Regions from separate parts of the Homo sapiens genome. Here regions 1 and 3 are each reported to be linked to region 2. Evidence: microRNA targets listed by miRTarBase, many of them from high-throughput screens and not tested one by one. Region 2 holds a microRNA gene; each other region holds the end of a gene's coding sequence.

Region 1 (7,540 bases), not on the chromosome of region 2:
GCATGATTTGATACTGGGGCTTACTCTGCTCTCATTATCTGGGACCCTAGGGTAAACTCCTAGGGTAAGGCTCAGGGCTGGGGGGGTGGGGGGAGCATCCTGGGGTATCTAAGTGGGGTAACTGAGCAGCCTGGATGCCTGGGTTTAGAACTGCCTACCTTCATTGTTTTGTGATGGAGCCAGCAGCCGCGCAGTGTGATCCAAAGACGCCTGGTGGAGGGAAACCCGAATTGGCTTCAGGGGGAGCCTCCCCGGATGCAGGACCTGATTCATGGCCAGGAGAGCAGGAGGAAGACCAGCAGGACAGAGATTCCAGCTCTTCTGGTCAACTGCAAGGTGAGAGGCCTCCCAGGGACACACTTTCATTAACAACCCTGCCTGCACTCACTTCACCTGCTCTCCTTTCTGCTCTGCCCTGATGGGAGAGGGAGGGAGGGAGAAAGGGCACCTCTCTCCCTAGCCTGGACCTAACCAGGATCCTCTACCTCCTTCCTCCCTGCCCCAAGCCATGTCTCCTCGGTGCAACTCCATCTGTCACCACCATTACTCTGCCCCCCTTCCTTGGTCAAAATACAATACTTAAATTAAGTAAGTACTCCTCAGTGTGCTCTACACAGACAAATGGTGTGTGTGCATGGATAACGTAATTCTGGAAAAAACTCATGTGTTCTAAGGCATTGGCCCTGTAATCTCTGGAACCACTTAACCACTCAGTCACTATTGAACATTCGCAATAAATTCCCACTGGTCCTCGGCCACCGTCTTTGCTCTGTGCTTCTTCTATGTGGATTGCTCTTCTTGCTCTCCAATCATTCTGGGTCCGCATTCTGCAAGCAAAAGCCCAGCTCAGATGTTACCTCCTCCTTGAAACCTTTTCTGATTTCCCCAGTAGGAAACAGCCTTTCCTCCCTCCCAACCTCTAAGGCATGTTACTCACGTCCTTTTTTTAAAAAAAAAAATTTTTTTTGAGACAGAGTCTCGCTCTGTCACCCAGGCTGGAGTGCAGTGGCATGATCTTGTGTCACTGCAGCCTCTGCCTCCTGGGTTCAAGCGATTCTCCTGCCTCAGCCTCCTAAGTAGCTGGGACTATAGGCCCACACTACCACACTTGGCTAATTTTGTATTTTTAGTAGAGATGGGGTTTCTCCAGGTTGGTCAGGCTGGTCTCAAACTCCTGACCTCAGGTGATCCATCCACCTCGGCCTCCCAAAGTGCTGGGATTACAGGCGTGAGCCACCGCACCCCTCGACTTTTCCGGTCCTTTTGTTTATTTTTTAGAGACAGATTCTTACTCTGTCACCCAGGCTGGAGTGTAGTGGCATGATCAGAGCTCATTGCAGCCTCAACCTCCTGGACTCAAGCGATCCTCCCACCTCAGTCTTCTGAGTAGCTAAAATTACAAGTGTGCGCCACCACAGCTGGCTAATTCTTTTTTTGTATTTTTAGACTACCACGTTGGTCAGGCTGGTCCTGAACTCCTGGCCTCAAGCGATCCTTCCACCTTGGCCTCCCAAAGTGCTTGGATTATAGATAGGTGTGAGCCACAGGGCCAGGGCATTCACATCCTTTTATAGACCATAAAACTTTCTGCCATATAGTAGAGTTATATTATACTTCCTTTAGACTCCTGAAGAATAGCATTCATTGATATACCTTCCGGTAACATATCTTATAGTAAATACTCAATGAATGTTTGGAATGAGAAAACGATGTGTGTGTATATCCAAGCGTATATCAAAATGTCTATGTCCCAAAGTAGGTGAAGTTGTCTTCCTTTGTTTCCAATAGCGAACTTCTTGGTTACTCATATCTGAGTTTCCTAACAGGGATTCCAGTCTTCTCATCCTTCCTCTATTCCTAACCTGGAGTTTTCGAACCAGGAGGCCATCAAACTCCCAAGGATTCCTCTAAACAAACAAATCACCGTTTCTCCATTTCTGGCAGATCTTCCCCAAACTTATGAACCCATCACATATAACCACTTTTTTTTTTTCCATTTTATTTTTTGTAGAGACAGAGTCTTGCTATGTTGCCTAGGCTGGTCTTGAACTCCTGGCTTCAAGTGATCCTCTTGCCTCCAAAGTGCTAGAACTACAAGCATGAGCCACCGCACCTGGTCCACTTCCTTTTTTGATTTATTTATCTGGGAGTTCTGCCCCTATTGTATGAGTCTCATAAAAACCAGTTTTTTTGTTTGTTTTGAGACAGAGTTTTGCTCTTGTTGCCCAGGCTGGAGTGTAATGGCGTGATCTTGGCTCACCACAACCTCCGCCTCTCGGGTTCAAGCGATTCTCCTGCCTCAGCCTCCCGAGTAGCTGGGATTACAGGCATGCGCCACCACACCCAGCTAATTTTGTATTTTTAGTAGAGACAGGGTTTCTACTAAACCCTGGTCAGGCTGGTCTTGAACTCCCGACCTCAGGTGATCCACCCGCCTCGGCCTTCCAAAGTGCTGGGATTACAGGCGTGAGCTACCGCGCCTGGCCCCGATAAAAGCCAGTTTTAAAGACAGTTCATTTTCTCCACTCATTTCTAGGAGGGAATCATCAATGGGCTGGGAAACTGAAGGATCCAATTCCAACCCATTCTCCTAGGGACTCACTGATTCACCACGATTCTTCTTTCTTAGTGCCAGGACCAGCTGCTTAGAGTGGCCGTTGACACAGGCACCCAATACAATCGGATCTCTGCTGGATGTCTCAGCCGCCTGGGGTAAGAATGTGGCCCAAACAAGCAAGTGGGGGACAGGGTTTCTTTTTGGGGTGATGAAAATATTCTCAAATTAGATAGTGACGACAGTTGCATATTTTATCTCAATAAAGCTGTTATTTAACAAAAGAGTGGCTAGAAGACTCTGGCAGAGAAGGCAAGGATTTAGACCCCACGTGAGGTCAGGGGTTGGAGATGAAACCATAGTAGAGAGGGACACCTGCTGATTAATGGGGTGGAACCCTCTAGGGGCTGTGGTAGCCATAACCCTTGCTTCCCAACCACAGGTTAGAGAAAAGGGTCCTAAAAGCCTCAGCTGGGGACCTGGCCCCTGGGCCCCCAACCCAGGTGGAGCAGTTGGAGCTACAGCTGGGGCAGGAGACTGTGGTGTGCTCGGCACAGGTGGTGGGTAAGTCCCCCCTTCTGCAACAGCCCTGGTGCTCACCTCACCTTTCTCTTTGGGGTGGGGCAAAGGCTGAGACTTTCACTCCCTGCAGCACGAGGAGTTCCCAGAGATGTTCTGACTATCCCCCATCTCTGTGCCAGTGTCCTCGGATCTGGGGATGGGGTGGGCAGAGAAGGAGCAACGGCTAAGAGGAGGGCAGCAGTGACCACTGGGAACCCTCAGCCTCTTCTGTTTTCAAATTGTTCCTATAGATGCTGAGAGTCCTGAATTCTGCCTGGGCCTGCAGACTCTGCTTTCTCTCAAGGTAAGGCACCCACTCAGGGCCTGACCCAAAGCACTGGGAAAAAGTAGTAGAAGGCACAGGTGTGGAACCTGGACCAGGTTCTGATGAGAGTGACTTAGAGATGGGCAACTGTCCCTTTGCTTCCTTAGAGGTTCCTTACTTACCACCAAGTGAAAAATCAAGAGAACTGGGTCACCCCCTTCAACAGGAGTCTAGGGAAATGGGGATGGGGGAAGAGCAAAAGGCAGGTGGAAGCTGTGGGAAGTGGGAGGGGGAACAAAAGGAGCAGGCCGGGAGGCAGGTGGCGGGCTGAGGTGACCTGGCATGACTGCTCTACACCCCGCAGTGCTGCATCGACCTGGAGCACGGAGTGCTGCGGCTGAAAGCCCCGTTCTCAGAGCTACCCTTCCTGCCTTTGTACCAAGAGCCTGGCCAGTGACTGCTGTCTCAGTCAGTCCCCAGAGGGAAAGACCTTGCCTTAGAAGAAGAGGCGTGTGGGGAACGGGGGCTCTTGAAGCCAGGTAGCTGGGGACTATGGTGTCTGCCCTTCCAATCACCTCCCTGACCCCTGCTGTCCCATTTTCCCCAGCTGGCCGCATTCCTCTCTGCTTCTCAGCAGCTGTCCTACTCCCCAGGACGAGTTTTCACTAGAGGGCCCACGATGCCAGGATTCTGATTCATCTTCCTCCCAAGAAAAGCAAAGCCAAATCAAGACCACAGATAGGAACCTAAGCACAATGGGGTGCCTGCTTGGGCTGGGTCGAAGGCTCTGCTGACTGCTGTCCTTGTCCATCACCCAATACCACCCCAAACACAACTCAACTTCCCACACCACCATGTCTCTCACCACACCTTCTGGGCCTCATTATCTCCCACAACTAGACCGCCATGCCTCACCAACCTATGTCCCTGGACCTCCTGGTGTCTGCCTCTCGGAGTCTGTGCACATCTGCTCACAGTTGAGTGGGGGAAGAAACAGCCAGAATTCAATACAACAAAGAGCGGGAGTTAGTATAGGAATGTCCATCTCATAAGGCTGAGAGCTATTTTTTCCTGTGGCTGCAAATGTCTGAAGCCAGTTAGTTTGATTACCCTGTGCAAAACCTTGGACATACTTCTGCTATTAACGCTATAGGTATTTATCCGTTTCCACTGGCTTTTTGTACCCACCGAGCCCCTGAGCCTTGCGTGTGTGTGTGTGGAAGAGCCTTGTAGAGAACTGCTCCTGTGAGGCAGACAGGACAGTGAGGTTGTCACCACTCAGACTTCACCTATTCAGCATTCTTTCTGATTTCTAGAACTATCCACCTCATTAGGCCTTCTTCCTATCCCCATCTCTGGCCTCTTGAGCTTAAGCTTGTATTGTCCTGGAATCAGTGGCTTTCTAACCCCCTGCCAGGCTTTGCCAAAGCAAAAAGACAGAGGCTTTTTTTTTTTTTTTAAAGTTTGGGGTCTGTCAGGAGACAGAGGCTTTTTTGAATTCACTGTGAAGAGAAGAACCCGAACCTTAAGACGCCAGATCCCTGAGAGTCTTTCTGGCTGGTTTGAGTCTCTCAAATCATGGATTAGGAGTAAAGAAAGAGGCCAGGCGCAATGGCTCATGCCTGTAATCCCAGCACTTTGGGAGGCTGAGGTGGGTGGATCACTTGAGGTCAGGAGTTTGAGACCAGCCTGGGTAATATGGCAAAACCCCATCTCTACTAAAAAATACAAAAATTAGCCAGGTATGGTGGTGAACACCTGTAATCCCAGCTACTTGGAAGGCTGAGGCATAGGAGTTGCTTGAACCTGGGAGATGGGGGTTGTAGTGAGCCAAGTTCGTGCCATCGGACTCCAGCCTGGGTGAAGGAGTGAGACCCTGTCTCCAAAAACAAACAAAAAAGGAGCAGAGAAAGACAGTGGTACAGCTAACCTGAACAAGGGAACTGGGACCGTTGGGCTGAAACAGTCTTGAGCCTGGGGTTGACTGGGTTAGAGAAGAACCGGGATGCAAGGAGCTGCCTGTGACACCTGGCCTGCCCTTTCTCAGCTGCCTCCCCTGCCCTTTCTCAGCTGCCTCCCCTGCCCTCAGAAGGAAAGGAGAGGGCTCACTTATCACTTGTGCCATAGCACCTGGTCTCAAAATCCTAAAAGCTTTCCTCGCCCTCACTGCCTTGCTCCACAAGGTCCACTTTCCTGGGTCTTGTGCTGTGCCTTTCCTTGTCTGCCTCCTGCTGCTTCTGTAACTGCAGACCCCAGGCCCAATGGCAAGCCCTCGGCTCAGCTGCTTCTCCATTGGAATAAACTCTTGTTTCTCTATGTCGATGTTCTTCTCTGGTCTTCCTCCCTGCCTATCAAGAGCTGAGTGATAATTGCCCATTGTCCCTTACAGAAAGGAAATGTAAATGTGGGCCCTTGCCCAGGCTGACCCATCTGACTAGGGTCAGTATAATTGAGAGGAATTTGAAAGCAATGGCTTTCAAACTCCTCGACCACAGCTTACCACAGCAGGAATACATTTTACATGGCACTCAGTACACACATGCACATATGACTAACAAAACAATACTTACCTACACTGAGAGCAATGTACTCTGCTATTTTCTATTTTACTTTATTCTATTCTACCTATTTAAAAAATGCTGGCCATAATCCACCAAAGGACTGCAACCACAGTTTGAAAAACACCGATTTAGAGCATAGAGAATCAAGAACAGACGGCACATAAATGACCCAAGATATAATTCTGATTGTGGTCTGGATCATAAACCCGCATCACATTTTAAATGTCTATTGTCTTGGAGACAATAAGCTGTTTTATGGGGGAATGGGTGGGTGGAAAAATGGGAGCAGGGCTTCTGAAGCTGACTAATACCTGAAGAATACGGCAACGTGAGAAAGCACTGACCCGGCTGCTTTGGTAAATGGAAGAAAATCATCTCAGGGTTGCTAGGAACATGGGTAAGACCAGACTGTAGAAAGATCCTTCAAAACAAAACAGTTTGCCATTCCTTTAACAATTACTAACGTCAAGAACTTGGAATTGTGCCACGGAAGACAGAGCTTAAGATGGGGTGGAGCCCTTACCTCCACTGCTCCCCTGGGCCTAAAGCCTGGTTTCCTTATGGGTGTTGGGGCCACACAAACAAGTCTCTGTTTTCAACACAGTGACAGTGGGGAGTGGGTCATGTCCCAGATGATTTGGAACAAGGCCAGGGTCCTATGACCCTGCTGGCATGATGGGTGAGGTCCATAAGGAAATGGGCAGAGGGTCAACTTGTCTCTTCTTTCACCGAAAAGACTGCGAGGTCTATAGTTCACGGTCACCCTAGGGCTGCTGCCATCTTTCATGCCCAGAGTCAAATCCTGCATTTCTGTAATGCATATTCCCTATCCTGCCAATACCACAGATACCTTTAGGGGGTAGGGTGGGGGTTCAGAAGAATCCTTCACCAGCTATGAGGCAAGTACAGCTAGGTGGGATCCTGGAGGCTTGAGGGAGCACACTGTGGTGGCTGGTCTGGATGGTAGAGCGTTTGGTGAAGCAGGGCACGAGTCACAGGGAGGTCGTCAGGATCTGAGAGCCAAGAAGGGGTGGGTAAGAGGCTGTGGGTCTCCTGGGCACCCGGGCCACTGGCTTTTCTGGGACTCACCCACGCCCAGCTCCTGCAGCATGCTGTGGGTCTCCTGGGCACTCGGGCCACTGGCTTTTCTGGGACTCACCCACGCCCAGCTCCTGCAGCAGGCTGTGGTACTCCGGCTTGGTCTCCAGCAGTTTCACCAGATTGGTAGACTCCATCCGCTCCAGCTGCACCTCCCAGTACACATAGATCTTCTGGTTGAAAGTGACATATACGAGGCAGGGGCTGTTGCGGCCCTCTTTGCAGGCGTACAGGCCTGGAAGATGTTGGCAGGGAGATAAAGGTCAGGAAGTTTCAGTGCCGACAGTGGGGGGCAGACAGCAAGACACAGACCTCCGAGTCAGCACTTTCCATCCTCCCACTGATGTCAGGAAAAAAATTAAAGGTTATTTCTTCTCTGTTGGGAACTCAGTAAAACAAGTAAGATGGGAAAAGACCTGGCTCACTTCAGATGTAGAAAAACCATAGTAACAAAACCCGGGCAGAATAGCATCCAAAAAGGTGCTATTTATTGCTTTTCCC
Region 2 (7,562 bases):
TTTTAAAATCAGCTTTGATGGAATTTTGTTCCTTAGAAGGAATCTCAGATAAGACTTTTTTAAAGCTGAGCCCAGCCATGGGTCTGTACCCTCAAATATCTATATGAGTTGGGTAAATTTCTCTCTTCTTGAGATCCCAAGATAACTTGGGGCTCCTGGACTTGTCATAAAGTGACATTCTTTACTTACCACAGGTCAAGAACCCTGTACAGGGACTACGTAGACAATGTATGAGGCCAGTTTTCCTAAGGGGCTTTTATTGGCACTGTAAGTCAAGTTTGATTCCTTAAAGGAAAGAGTGTCATTCCAGTCAAAGCCTTGGTGAAAAAAAAGTTTCTCCAATTGTGTTCTGATACAAAAGAAAACATTCTTATTGCATTTATGCAAATAATTATATTGCCATAAGTTAAAAATGCTCACAAATGGTTTCTGAATTTTGGAGAAATTGGGCAGAGAGAAACAAATATGCTTCAAATTTTGTTCACAGGAGTATACTTTACTCAATTGTTAAAAGCTGTTAATAGCTCAAAAGAAAAATTTCCTTGGCTCTGAAAAACAAAAGAAAGGATCAGCAACGTTTTAAGCCAAAAGTTAAAAAAAGATTGCTTCAGTCTTCTGTTAGGTCAATCCATGCAGTTAACTCCTGTTTTGCTTGATATTCATGAACATTTCAGCTCTTCATGAGTCCTGAAAGTTTTTTCCTCTATTTTAATGTCACAATTTACAAAGTTATTAGAAACCTACATTCAATAACACCTGTTAGAGTTCTATAATTGATTATAAAACCACCTTCTAAAGAGGACAAAGACAAGACAACAATTGTCCGTGGGTGACAAAACACCTTAGGATAGCCTCTATTAAAGCCACAGTTGACTAAGAATTTTGGTTACTTCTGTGGCATACAACAATTTTTACATAACAATTATAATGATTAACAACATACACTAAGTCATATCAGAATTGTAGGAGTTTCCTGTGATTTTGGAACATATACCAATAACATATTTATACAAATACAGCCCAAAGAAAGCCAAGCGCCATTTCATATTTGACAGTGCTTCCTGTATGATTTTTATACCAAACAAGCCAAACTTCACCATTGAATTAGTGCATTATTGATGTCAAACTCAATTCTTTTTTTTTTTTTTTGAGACAGAATCTCACTCTTTTGCTCAGGCTGGAATGCAGTGACGTGATCCCAGCTCACCGCAACCTCTGCCTCCCAGGTTCAAGCAATTCTTCTGCCTCAGTCTACCGAGTAACTGGGATTACAAGTGTGAGCCACCACGCCTGGCTAATTTTTGTATTTTTAGTAGAAACAGGGTTTCGCCATGTTGGCCAGGCACAGGGACCTCAACAGCACATGCCAGTGAGGATGGGTCTCAAACTCCTGAACTCAGGTGATCCACCTGCCTTGGCCTCCCAAAGTGCTGGGATTACAAGCATGAGCCACTGTGCCCAGGATCAAACCCGATTCTTAATAAAACTTTATAGATAAATCTATCCAATTTTAATGTCTGACCATAAGGTAAGGTTCTTATAAACCTCTTAAAACCCTTTACAATTTTTGTTAAAGAGCAGATTAGTGTTCTAAGAAAACTCTGTTGTGCTTTTATTCCAGTCTTCAATTTATGGATAAACTGAATAATACCCCTTTAATTTTAGCTAATATGTTCACACACAGAATTTCTTTTACAAGATTAATTTTTCACAAACCTTCCACAACTTGTTCAAACTTCAACTTTTTCCTATCTAACCTAAAACAATCCTTTAACCCTTAAATCTAGGCAAAAAAAAAAAATCCACATTCACATGCCTTTTTATAATCTTTTACCAAAAACACATTTCACTTTCCTTGCATGTAAAACTGATTTACTTAAGTCTCATGAACTAAAAGGCATTTATACTTTTTACTTTTCTGACAATATTTGATTTAAGCACCTATTATTTTTAAACCAGTTAATCAAAATGCTTTCATATCACACACACAACCCATATAAATACACAGACAGGCAGAATAATATTCAGTAGTTGTTAAGATTTTTCATTTGCCAGTTTCTTAAATGGATTATGGGTTTCAGGGTAGAGCGCTTGGAGGAACAGGCCCAGGAAAGCACACAGTTTCTAGGGCATCATAAGCAGGTACAGCCAAAGTTGGCCAATTGGTGCTGCAGTCTATTTCCTTTGGGCCAGAGTTTCCTCAGTATTGTCCCTTCAGGGTTCACCTGGAAGATGTTACCGGGAAGGAGTCCCAATCCAGACCCCAAGAGGGAGTTCTTGGATCTTGCCCAAGAAAGAATTCAAGGCAAATCCAAAGAGTAAAGTGAAAGCAAGTTTATTAAGTAAAGGAAACAAAAGAATGGCAACTCCATAGGCAGAGCAGCCGGTCACTTTAAATTCATTTCTACAACCTAATTTTTGACATATTTTAGATGCCAGTTCATTTACTGTAAGGCATAAGATTAGACTTGTTGGCATCAAAGGACTGTGACTTCTAAATGAATGCATATAATAAAGAGATATTTTGCCTGCAAGGCCAATGAGACCCACTTAGGATGGTCTTAGGCTCAGCATTATCCTTGAACAGATTTATGCATATTTCTAACTTTTAAATTTTCATTTACATTTGTTTATTTTATTATACTTCCCAAGAGAAGATTTTCTATAGAAGTTTTATTAAATTCTTCCTATTGTACCTAAACTCTGTCCCCATTGTCCTTCTCTTGCTCCAGATTGTCATATCTCAGACTGATGTGTCTATCAGAGGCACAGGGACCTCAACAGCACACGCCAGTGAGTCAGTCATCAGATTATAGTAGCCTGGGAATGGGGTGAATACAGGCTTGAAGTGGACTAGTATCTATTTCCAAGGAGGCCCAATCTATTGGGTAAGCCATTGCAGCAAGTGTTTCTAGCTAACAAGATGGTCAGAGTCAGGCAGGGGGGCCTTGCTGTGATTCTGGGTTGACCTTGTTTGGAGCTAGATGACTATAGCCAGCATCTAGGAGAGAAAACTGGTTCAAGTCACTAGGCTTGGAAATGTCATCTTGCCAGACCCTCTTATGGTCTTGACTAACTGGGCTGGGTTTATTACCAGTAGAGGAACAGACAACTACATCAGGGCAGAAGCCCAGGCACATGGACATGGAAAAACATATGCATCACTGAGGAAGAGCCTAGAGCTTGATGTACACACAGATGCTTGAGGTTCACCCTGGTCCATTGGATACTGGGTCTAAAATATGTTTTCACATTGGTAATTCTAGGCCTTATCTGCTCCTGGGGGCAGAGGTCCCACCAAATGGTGCCTGCATGGGTCCATACTGACTGTACTTGAGAGAGGCTAAGGGTCCTATAAGACTGGAGAAAGAGGGTTGATGGAAATAGATTAGCCTTGATTGCCTGGAGAATGCCAGCTGGTTTTCAGCCCCCAATACTTTGGAGCAGAATTAGTTAACTTTGAGTGATGGGTGGATCTTTCTTTTCTTCTAATTTAACTTGCTGTTCATGTTTAGCTTACATACAGTATTGGGTCATTTTTTGCATAACTTTTTTTTATTTCTAACAGACTTTATTTTTTAGAGCAGTTTTAAGTTCACAGCAAAATTGAGCAGAAGTTATAGCCCTTGCCCCACGCATGCACAGCCTCTCTGGTTATCAGCATCCCCAACCCAAATGGTACATTTGTTACACTTGATTAGCCCACATTGATTGACACATAGTTATCACCTGGAATCCATAATTTACATTAGGCATTAGGGTTCACTCAGTGTTTTTTTTGTTTTGTTTTGTTTTGTTTGAGATAGAGTCTCGCTCTGTCACCCAGGCTGGAGTGCAGTGGCACGATCTTGGCTCACTGCAACCTCTATCTCCCGGGTTCAACCAATTCTCTGCCTCAGCCTCCTGAGTAGCTGGGATTACAGATGCCTGCCACTACGCCTGGCTAATTTTTGTAGTTTTAGTAGAGATGGGGTTTCACTATCTTGGCCAGGCTGGTCTTGAACTCCTGACCTTGTGATCCACCCACCTTGGCCTCCCAAGGTGCTGGGATTACAGGCATGAGCCACCATGCCTGGCTCACTAGGTGTTTTTAAAAGGAAAAAAAATCTCACTTACTTTGAGAAGACTCTTGTGCTTTCACATGTATAAATATAAGCACTAAAATCACATGAACATACATTCATTTGAAGTTTTCAAGGAAATAATCATGAAATGTTTCAGATTATTATTTAAGTAAAAAATTTTTCTAGGAATGCATGGACCCCTGAGAATTTAGCCACAGACTCTCAGGGATTTGTGGACCTCAATTGGAAAACATTGCTGTAGAACAGTAGTTCATTTTGAACTCATTTTTGCAAGCTAAATTTTGACATGTTTTAGATGCTAATTCTAGGAATGTTCTCCCTTTTCTAAGAAAAGTCCAAGCATTTTTTACCTGCTCTAAAAGAATATCAACGGCTTTTATGTTTCAGAGACTGGATGCAAGAGATTGTTTAACAAATCCCATCCCATCCCTGAGAATGTGTCTAGGCATTTGCTCTTTGCAAAGCCAGATGCAACATTCATAATAACTAAGGCTATCTTCTGGCCAGCACTGCAAGTGTATCTTTTGTCTACATTCTTAAGTAACCACATCAAATAGCATCAACCCACTTGGAAATAATTTTGAAGTGATTTGGATCTCTCTTGTATATTTTCCCTATAAATCCCTAGCCTGGTAGGCGTGTATATTTTCTGCTGCAATATTTAATGCTTAGTTCCTTGCCTACATCTAAGAAATATTAATTTTAGAAGGAATTGGATACTGATATTGGCAAATTTTTATGAGACTGGCTAAAGGAGAAAGAAGAAGGGGACCTGTGATAGAATCTTCCATGACAAGGAGGAAATACTGGCCTCAGTCTCCTGCAGAAGCAGGAGCTCTGGTACACAGGTGGGGTGCCCACTGGTACAGCTCCCATCTGACATGAAGCAGGCAAGCCAAAGGGGAGCAAGAGCAATGCAACCTGTAAGACCCATCCTCAGACATTCTGCTATTGCCCCCAGACAATGGAAGGGGGGCGACAGCTGTCCATGGGGGCACTGCTAAGAGGGTGTTGATCAGCAGATCAGGACTGTAACTCACCATAGTGGTGGACTGCCCTGATCTGGAGACCACTGCCTTTCGAGAATAATTCACCCTACAGAAGCTATCTGAGCATCACCAGACAGGGTCTTCCTGGGAATTAGCACATATCCCAAATTTCCTTCAGCTTTGCCTGCCCACAGTCCCCTGAAAGCCCTCCCTTTTTCTGGGTGTGAGAGGAATGGCTGGGCATCCCTTGGCTTATCCTCCTTCTTGCCCACCATAGCCAGCATCTCAGAGTGAACATGCACGAGGGAGGTAGAAAGACTCCATATCCTTGTTCTTTACAACTTAGAAAAGCCTAAGTTATAGGAGAGAGATAGCACAATGGAATGCTGAATTAGAGGTAAATAATTGGTCTGTTTTTTTTTCACCAGTCTAGTTACTACTATTATGTAAAATATCTAATTTTACATACCCTAAACACCCATACCCAAACACCTTGACAAAGGAATCATTTTACCTCCCAAACATAGTCAGTGTTGATTTCACAAAATATCCCTAGAATTACTCTTTCTGAGGCTAACAGGACTACTTAGATGGTTCCTAAAGTCCCTTCTAACTCCTGCATTCTCTGGTTAATGAATCAGCATTAGTCATGTGGAAGGAAGGTATCCTCCTCAAACTCTTTTTAAGAATGATCTCAAGGAATCCAGAGTGCTCATTAAGTTGGTGAAAGAGTCAGTGCAGAATGCAGCTCATACATATATCCTGATGTGATGTTGGCACCTCTCAAGAAGCTGGGAAAGATGTCCAGGCTGGTCATAGGACTCAGCCCCTATTATGGGTCCAGCAGCCAGTAATAGTAAGCAATGTCTACTTCAAAAGATATCTCTGGCCAGGTGCAGTGGCTCAATCCCAGCACTTTGGGAAGCTGAAGCGGGAGCATCACTTGAGCCCAGGAGTACAAGACCAGCCTGGGCAACATGGCGAGACCCCATGTCTACCAAAAAAGAATTTTTTTTTTTTTTTAGACAGATTCTCACTCTGTTGCCCAGGTTGGAGTGCAATGGCATGATCTTGGCTCACTGCAACTTCTGCCTCCTGGGTTTAAGCGATTCTCCTGCCTCAGCCTCCCGAGTAGCTGGGATTACAGTCACACATCACCATGCCCAGCTAATTTTTGTATTTTTAGTAGAGGTGGGATTTCACCATGTTGGCCAGGATGGTGTCTAACTTCTGACCTCAGGTGATCTGCCAGTCTCAGCCTCCCAAAGTGCTGGGATTACAGGCGTGAGCCACTGTGCCTGGCCAAAACAATTGTTTTAATTAGCTGGCCGTGGTTGTGCATGCCTGTAGTCCCAGCTACTCAAGAGGCTGAGGAAGGAGGATTGCCTGATCCTAGGAGGTTGAGGCTGCAGTGAGCTGTGTTTGCACCACTGCACTCCAGCCTGGATGACAGAGCAAGACCCTATTTCAAAAAAAAAAAGATATTTCTGAGGAGCCATGCTCATTCAAGACTCACTGCTCTTAGAAGAGGTGTTAATCTGGCCAGGTGCCGTGGCTCACACCTGTAATCTGAGCACTTTGGGAGGGTGAGGTGGGAGGATCATCTGAGACCTGGAGTTCAAGGTCAGCCTAAGCAACAGACTGAGACCCTGTCTCTTAAAAAAAATAAGAGAGAGATGTTAATCTATATTAAACAATTGAATAGTGTGAAGATTTTGTAAAACTTTTTAAATCACCGATTATACAAAAGCTCTTATTGAATTATTAAGGAGTTAGCAATTACTATTAATGCTGTTGAATATGAGTAAGAACCCACTTAACTTCAATCAGAATCCATCGATCAAGCTTAAAGCCTTATCTCATAGTTCCCTTCCTGGTCTGTCAGCATTGCCTCATAGAGAGGGAAATACATCCCGCATCTGCCTCATCATGAACTTGGGTGGCCACCAGGATATTGCTCATGAAAGCTGCTTTTCTTTCTTTTTTTTTGTTTTGAGACGGAGTTTCACTCTTGTTGCCCAGGTTGGAGTGCAACGGTGCGATCTCGGCTCACTGCAACCTCCGCTTCCCAGGTTCAAGCGATTCTCCTGCCTCAGCCTCCTGAGTAGCCGGGATTACAGGCGCCCGCCACCACACCCAGGTAATTTTTTGCATTTTTAGTAGAGACGTAGTCTCACCATGTTGGCCAGGCTGGTCTTGAACTCCTGACCTCAGGTGATCTACCCGCCTTGGCCTCCCAAAGTGCTGGGATTACAGGCATCAGCCACTGCGCCTAGCCCGAAAGTTGCTTTTATAAACAGGTTCAAGGCCGGGAAATCCATTCTCCTCCACCTCCCAAAGTGCTGGGATTACAGATGTGAGCCACCGCACCCAGCCAGTTCATAGTTTAAAACAAAGATGATAGCAGCCCCTTCTCAAAACAAATCTCCTTCTTGCCTGGGGACTAGACTGCCTTTGTAGGACTAACGAATTAGGCACAAAATTAAAC
Region 3 (7,547 bases), not on the chromosome of region 2:
ATGTAATCATTTATATTGAAGTTTGTAACTGAGGTTTATTCATTTCCATGCTTACAGAGGTATTAAATTAGTCAATTAAAAATACTGCAAATTGTAAATAGTTTATTTATCCTTGTTGATGGACATTTTCCTTGTATTTTTAGCAATCTGTTAGACGAAGGTTTTCCATTTTTGTACATGGTTTTTGGTGCTTATGTGCAAGAATTTCTCCAGCATATATACCTAGGAATAAAACTGATGAATTTAGTGCATGCAAATGTTCAGTTGTAGAAGATAATGCCAAGTTGTTTTTCTTTTCCTCTCTTTTTTTTTTTTTTTTTTGGACAGAGTCTCATTCTCACCCAGGCTAGAACCGCCTCCGGGGTTCAAGCAATTCCTGTGCCTCAGCCTCCGGAGTAGCTGAGATTACAGGCACACGTCACCACGCCAAGCTAATTTTTGTATTTTTAGTAGAGATGGGGTTTCACCATGTTGGCCAGGCTGGCCTTGAACTCCTGACCTCAAGTGATCTGCCTGTCTTGGCCTCCCAAAGTTCTGGGAGTAGAGAGATGAGCCAGTGCGCTCTGTCTATTTTGACAGTTATTTTATCTCAGCAGTTTAAATATATCATGCTAATGTGTCTGGTATTTATTGTTGGCCCAGAAATTATTCCTTTGCAGGTGGTGCAAAGGATCAGCACGGGAGTTTTGACCTGCTCCGTTTCCGACCTGGGTCGGTTCACCCCTCCTTAGGCAACCTGGCGGTTCCCCGCTCCAGGGAGGTCACCCTCTTGATGCTGAATTTAGCACGGACACCTGATGGGCACAGTGCACTGCAGCCCAGAGCTCCTGAGCTCAAGCCATCCTCCTGCCTCAGCCTCCAAGTAGCCAGGACCACAGGCACGCACCCTGAGGTATGCCATTTCTCTTTGGTTCTTGTTATGGTAGTTCCTCTGTTTTTCCCTGTATTTTTACTGTCATGTCTTCCTTTATATTTATCTTGCTTGATATCTATTGTGCTTCCTATATGTGTGGATTCATATCTTTATCATTTTTGAAAAATTTTCAGACATTTTCTATTCAAATATTGCCTTTCCCTTATTCTCTCTATTTCTCCTGTTGGAAATCTGGTTAGATGTCTGTGTCTTCTCTGTTGTTTAACCTCTTTGTCATTTACCAACCCCTTGGCTTTTTGTATTGTATTCTGTGTAATTTCTTTAGATCTGTCTACTAGTTCACAGCTCCTCTCTTCAGTTATACCTGTTTGTAATTTACACATTGTACTTTAAATTTCAGTGATTATAGTTTTAATTTCTAAGACTTAAAAAATTTCCTTCTAATCTATCTGATTATATGTAATGTACTCTTTATTGTATTCATTGTTTTAGACGCTGTCTTTATTTCCTTAACATGTAAAACATGATTATTTTATATTGTGTATCTGGTAATTCCACTATCTAAAATCTGTAGGGTGATAAGTCGGCTGTTAGTTATATCTGCTGATTATCGCTTACAGTTTATTTGTATATTTAGTAATTTTTATTTTTATTTTTGAGACGGAGTCTCGCTGTCTCCCAGGCCGGAGTGCAGTGGCGCGATCTCGGCTCACTGCAAGCTCCGCCCCCCGGGTTCACGCCATTCTCCTGCCTCAGCCTCCCGAGTAGCTGGGACTACAGGCACCCGCCACCACGCCCGGCTAATTTTTTTCTTTTTGTATTTTTAGTAGAGACGGGGTTTCACCGTGTTCGCCAGGATGGTCTCGATCTCCTGACCTCGTGATCCGCCTGCCTCGGCCTCCCAAAGTGCTGGGATTATAGGCGTGAGCCACCGCGCCCAGCCATATTTAGTAATTTTAAAATTGCAATTGCATACTTTGTTGAGCTTAATTGGTGAGAGCTATGCGAGAGATGCTTTCCTCTAGACAACAAATGCTTGTATCTGCCTGGTACAAGGGGCCCTAAAAAGCTCTTTAATTTCTTGGTTGGGGTTTCTTTGATCATATGGAGAGTGTAAGACTGAATTCCATACTTGACGGGGGCAGGCATATGATAAATTTCAAGGGGTCATTATTATTTTTTTTTTCCATCTAGAGCCAGTGTGGAGATGGTGTTCTTGATAGATTTCTTTCGCTAGCATGAGGATTTTTCCTAGACCACTCTTGCCTAGGATGTAGCCATCTTCAAGCATCCTGCTTTTGGATGTGAATGTCAAATTTAACTCACCTGCTTCCAGTGGCCCAACGCTTAATCTTCCATTCCCTACTTTGTTATACAGATTTACCTTCAGGCAAGCCCAGTTTTTGCCTTTGCTTACATTTCACACTTAGTTTTCAGCTCACTCCACTTCTTTTTTGAAATGTTTTTGGAATTTCCCTTATTTTCTTATAATCTAAGCTGTGTGTTAAAAATAAACTTATTGTAATTTATCTAAGATTTAATAGTATGGCATAAGAAAGGCTTTTTAGAGGCTGGGCTCAATGGCTCACGCCTGTAATCCCAGCACTATGGGAGGCCAAGGTGGGTGGATAATGAGGTCAGGAGTTCAAGACTAGCCTGGCCAACATGGTGAAACCCCGTCTCTACTAAAAATACAAAAATTAGCTGGGCATGGTGGTGCGGAGGTTGCAGTTAGCCAAGATCGCCCCACTGCACTCCAACCTGGGTGACAGAGCCAGACTCCGTCTTAAAAAAAAAAAAAAAAAAAAAAAAAAAAGAAAGGCTTTTTAGAGTATCTAGTTTATACTGCTAGATGCCGAAACCAAAAGTAATCTTTTAGAAATGTGAAATAGTTTATATCACTCTTCTGCTTAAGATCCTCCAGTGGCTTTTTCTCACACTTAAAATGTACAAACTATCCTGGCCTACAAAGCCCAGAGCTGGGTCCTAGCTTAGCCCACGTGGCTCCCCACTCTGCCACCTTGCCGTTCCTGGTCTGGCATGCCTTCTGCTTTTTTCACACGTGGCTTTTAAACGTTTGTTCAGGTCTCACTCTAAATGCCACCTTTTCATGGAGGCCTTACCTGACTCCTCTCTCCATTTCTCTGTCAATCACCCTGTTTTAATTCTCTTTAGGGCATCTATTATTAGCTGACATTTTCCAGTCTATTGTCTGTCTTCCCCTACTAGAACATAAGACCTATGAAAGGAAAGCAGGGTTTTGTGTGATTCACCACTATATTCTCAGAGTTTAGAACAGTTCTTGGCACATAGTAGGAACTCAATACATATTTCTTGAATCATTAGAGCTGAGCGTTGACTACTTATTCCCTTTAGACGGGACCTAGGCTCTTCAGTGCTCCACAGTTCCCACTACTTCCTTTTAAAAATTTATTTTATTTTATTTAAAAAATTATTGTTGTTTTTTTTTTTTATTTTCAGAGAAGGGATCTCACTATATTGCCTAGGCTGGTCACATACTCCTGGACTCAAGTGATCCATCTGCCTCAGCCTCCCAAAGTACTGGGATTAGAGGCCACTGTGCCAGGCCAGTTCCTACTACGCCCTATTATGTCCCCAGCTGAGCTTGCTTTGTGAATTTATTGGCCCTTGTACGCATTTGAATTTTCAATCCCTGCTTATAAATGTCACTCTAATTGTCTTCAGGATCTTCAGAGCAGAGACTTTTTTTTATGTTTCTTTTCTTCCTTCAGTGTCTTGCATATAGTAGGAGGGGAAGGAATGAACATTCACTGAATATCCCCTACCTGTCAAACACAACAACAGTATAGTTTAATTTATATCCTTACAACAATGCTATGGAGCTGAGTAATATTATTTATATCTATTTTACCAGTGAGGACACTGAGGCTTAGAGTTGTTCAGAGTCATATAGTAAACCAAGGATCAGGGATTGGAACCCACTCAGACAACATATACCCAGTATGAAGTGTTGTTGCTTCATATACCCAGTATGAAGGGTTGCTCATGTGCGAGGAATGGTTGGTTGTTTTCAATTTGCAAAGGGGAGATTGGGCAATTGGATATTGCAGGTCAAGTTTTACTTGAGTAGTCCAGCTATTTATTTAGTTATCAATTTCATTCCACTGAGTGTATGGAGAATTAGCTGGAGATATTCCTACATTTGGCCAGAAGAGGCTTTGGAGATGTTAACCATGCCTTCTACATGAGAGTCCTGCTGTTGACAGATATGGAATCCAACAGCAGGGAGATTTTCCGAGATAGTTACTTCAGTGGAACCATCAGCTGTCACCAGATCACTGGACAAAGACAGAAACTGAATGCACCAAATATGTACCACACCACCAAAAATTCTTTTAAGTAACAAAATCTTATTTTTATTTTTATTTTTTTACAGAAATTCAGGTATTCCAACAAATTTCTTTACATTTCTTGGACCTTAAAAAAATTACACACAACTTTTGGACGCAATACAACAGAACAGAATGAGAAAGGGAGTCACCTTTTTTGTTTTTTTTTTAAAAAGATAAAAACCTACTTCTTATATTTAATTAACAATTAGTGATTTACATGTGTATTACCTATATACAAATGGTACATCGTCAATGACCCATCTTCAGAGCACTGTGGTATGCTAAATTACACTTAGGTTTTATGGCAAAAACTTTTTTAAAACATTCACATGTGGATAGGAAGTACTTTCTTAGTTTTGTTCATACCACTGTTAGTGATGTAGGACTCCCGATGGAATTTGTAGTTTGCATGGATTAGAGAAAGCCAATACCCTTTGTTTTTATTGTAGATAAAGTAGACAGGTACCTCCCTTCAAATAAAATACGAATTCTTGAAAAGTTGTGTGTAATTAAATTTAGTAAGTAGGGTGTTATGGATGTAGTAGGGAGCTAATACTTAAAGCAACAAATAATCCTCAGAATGACTAATACTTTAGTTGTAGATACTAAGTATTCCCTTAATTTGGTTCTTTAGAAAAGCCACATCTCTGTGAATTGGGTTTTACTCCTTTGAGCATACCCATAATATGCTTTTAGCCATTTGAAACATAATGCCATTTATGGTGAAAAGATGGCCCGTACCAGAAACATTTGGCTAAAATAGGAATGTGGTCCTAACAGAGAGAGGGTAAGAGAAGTGAACCCTGATCTGTATCACTTCTTGTGTTATCCTCCATCTGATGTTCTAGTGATATACACTGATTTGTTCTGATTTTGAATACATGAATAAAAGCATTCTACATGTCCATGTTTTCTCCTTAGGTATAGAACATGGTTTGGCTTCCATTAAGTACCCTTGCATGTATTTTAGCTTGTGTTCATTCTCAGGCAATGGGCTATTTCAATATTAAATATTTGTTTGTTGTTGGATATTAGCAGGATATGTGGTGAGGGTGATGATGGGGGAAGCCTGGGAGCAAATGATTGTTGAAGTCCACTGGTTAGTTGTTAACTACTTCCAGATGTCAGCCAACTAAAATGAATCTGAGTATTTTTGAAACCAACATTAGTAAACAAAAAGGTAACTTATTCCTACCGAGTTTTTTTCAACCTGTATAAGTATACAGTCATTTATTTCTAAGGCTATTAAATTATTATTTATTTTGTTAGTACCACTTACTATTATTTAGAAATATGTTTAATGGAATGATTTTTAAAAAAATAAAAATGAGTGCCCATCAGTAAGGGAAATAGAAGACATGGATTTCTGATAACATGTATGGCAAAGAAATAGGAAAAAAGTAGGAGACATTTTAGATACTTATTTATAAAGTATATTAAATTCCTATGCATATACTAGGGAGAATTAGAAAAAAAGTGTTTATTTGATAGTAGCCTATAATATTACACGTGAGCTTCCAAGGTGAAAATGAACTTTTTCTATATTTTTCAGAGTTCCTTGATGCTGTTTCCTGAAAGATAGGGAAATCTATGTTGCTTGGGAACCTATGATGTAAAGATGTACTTCCTGTAATATACAGCTTGATGGAGTAATAGTATATGGCATAAACACTTTCTCAGTAATAACTTGTATGGACAGATTAAACAGAACACAGACTTGGTAAAAAGTTTGAAGCGTTACGTCTCTTAATAACTGAGTGGTTGTAACTAATTACACAGTGAAGTAAATGAATGGTAGAGATGAAGAACCAAAGGTCACGGCTCCTATGAAAACATTCAGAGGCATTTTCTAAGATGCTTCCTCAATAAATGACGCTTGATCAGCCTCTTGGCTATTGAGATAGGAATAATTTAGAACTAACTGCCTTTTTAAAAATTCTGTTGAAAGGTTAAAGCTTTTTGTTTTCAGTTTGATTTAAAAAGGACAGTTTACAAACCTCAGTACGTATATATTTTACATGTTAACTCTAGAGCATTTATATTCCTCTTCCTTATTTCCTGAATATGATTTTTCATGAACGTTTTCTGATCTCATCCAATGAGTTTCCAATGAGCTGGTGTTTAATCCATGATCACATCTCTTTCCAGAAAATCACTCCCATCTCTGCTGATCTAGATTTAGAAAGTGCGTTGACAAGTGAATGTTCCATTCTTGTTCATATTCATCTATATACTCTGATCTCTCTCAGGCGTATTCCTTCTTGATGTTGATGTACAAAAGCTGTTATTCGATTCGTTTAGCTGTTATTCGATTTGTTTAGCTGTTATTCGATTTGTTTTGTGCTCATTCTAGAGAATATTGGCTTAGCAGAACTGCAGAAATTGGAGGGAAGAGAGAGAAAAAGGGTGGGGGGAGAGAAAAAATACATCATTTTCTGTCTGCAAGATTTTTGTGCATAATATTTGTCACGGAAAAACTATACCAATGAATGGTTCAAATGCATTTTGCATTTGTTACCAAACAATACTGGAAAGTTTGAGATTTCTGTTCCATTCAACCCACAGTACAGTCTTCCCAGCAAGAAGAACATGAGTATTCCCTCCATCTGGGTCAAGATTAGAGGCTGCTTTGAAGGAGCAAGGAAAAATGTGGACTGTTCCCAAGTATCACTGACTTTTCTGCTTAGCATGGAAAAATGTGTCACTTGAGTGTTTTCCTTTTCTTTCCAAGTTTTATTTATTTGAACTCAACATTATAGCAGCTACAAAAGAAATTATTATAAAGATTAATGACCCACAATTTAATCACTTGGACACAACTGTTTTCTTCCTATATTTCTTTCCATTCCTTATCTAAATGGGAAATTATTTTATACAATTGTAATTACAGTATAGATGATACTTTAAACATTTAAACATTACATTAAAGACAATTTTCTAAATTTCCATTGTCCATATCAGCATAAGTTTCTTTTATTTATTTATTTACTTAATTTATAATATAGAGACAGGGTTTCACCATGTTGCCCAGGCTGATCTCGAACTCCTGAGCTGAAGTGAGCCACCTTCCCCAGCCTCCCAGAGTGTAGGGATGACAGGTGTGCGCTACTGTGCCCCACCATCAGCATGAATTTTCAATGGCTGCATAATATTCTGCCTCATTCTCATTCCTTTCTACTCTATGCTCAATATTCCATTTGCAACTGTTTCACTATTGTCAGACATATAGGAAGGTTTCTGATTTATTATTATAAATATGAATATCTTTTATATAAAGATCTATTTATATTTTAAAATAT

Evidence for each region. The annotated mature microRNA hsa-miR-1288-3p reads UGGACUGCCCUGAUCUGGAGA and lies in region 2 at 5,134-5,154, shown strand. An mRNA with a match to its seed (bases 2 to 7 or 8) in the 3' UTR can be bound and repressed. Matches are read on the target gene's strand: a 7mer-m8 pairs with bases 2 to 8, a 7mer-A1 pairs with bases 2 to 7 and ends in A, and an 8mer does both.
Region 1: the mRNA of ITFG2 is a reported target of hsa-miR-1288-3p. Seed matches in the 3' UTR shown: 7mer-m8 at 6,039-6,045.
Region 3: miRTarBase lists LHFPL3 as a target of hsa-miR-1288-3p. The part of its 3' UTR that is shown has no 7-base or 8-base seed match.

The regions. Positions count from the first base shown.
Region 1 is chr12:2,823,504-2,831,043 of GRCh38, reverse strand. It overlaps ITFG2 (integrin alpha FG-GAP repeat containing 2), which reads right to left. Exons shown (of 12, transcript NM_018463.4): 11 at 7,101-7,274; 12 at 5,968-6,954. The coding sequence ends at 6,851. It overlaps NRIP2 (nuclear receptor interacting protein 2), which reads left to right. Exons shown (of 6, transcript NM_031474.3): 2 at 184-336; 3 at 2,630-2,712; 4 at 2,997-3,118; 5 at 3,367-3,419; 6 at 3,745-5,696. The coding sequence ends at 3,837. Among named protein-coding and RNA genes, the nearest start is that of NRIP2, 7.8 kb to the left of the region's middle. RefSeq lists a silencer at 5,627-5,921.
Region 2 is chr17:16,276,925-16,284,486 of GRCh38, forward strand. MIR1288 (microRNA 1288) reads left to right here and starts at 5,090; the gene lies at 5,090-5,164. The region is part of intron 2 of PIGL (phosphatidylinositol glycan anchor biosynthesis class L); the gene reads left to right.
Region 3 is chr7:104,905,261-104,912,807 of GRCh38, reverse strand. It overlaps LHFPL3 (LHFPL tetraspan subfamily member 3), which reads right to left. Exons shown (of 3, transcript NM_199000.3): 3 at 4,247-6,621. The coding sequence ends at 6,593. LHFPL3-AS2 (LHFPL3 antisense RNA 2) reads left to right here. Exons shown (of 4, transcript NR_027374.1): 3 at 732-892. It also overlaps the pseudogene RN7SL8P. Among named protein-coding and RNA genes, the nearest start is that of LHFPL3-AS2, 18 kb to the left of the region's middle. RefSeq lists a silencer at 2,473-2,629.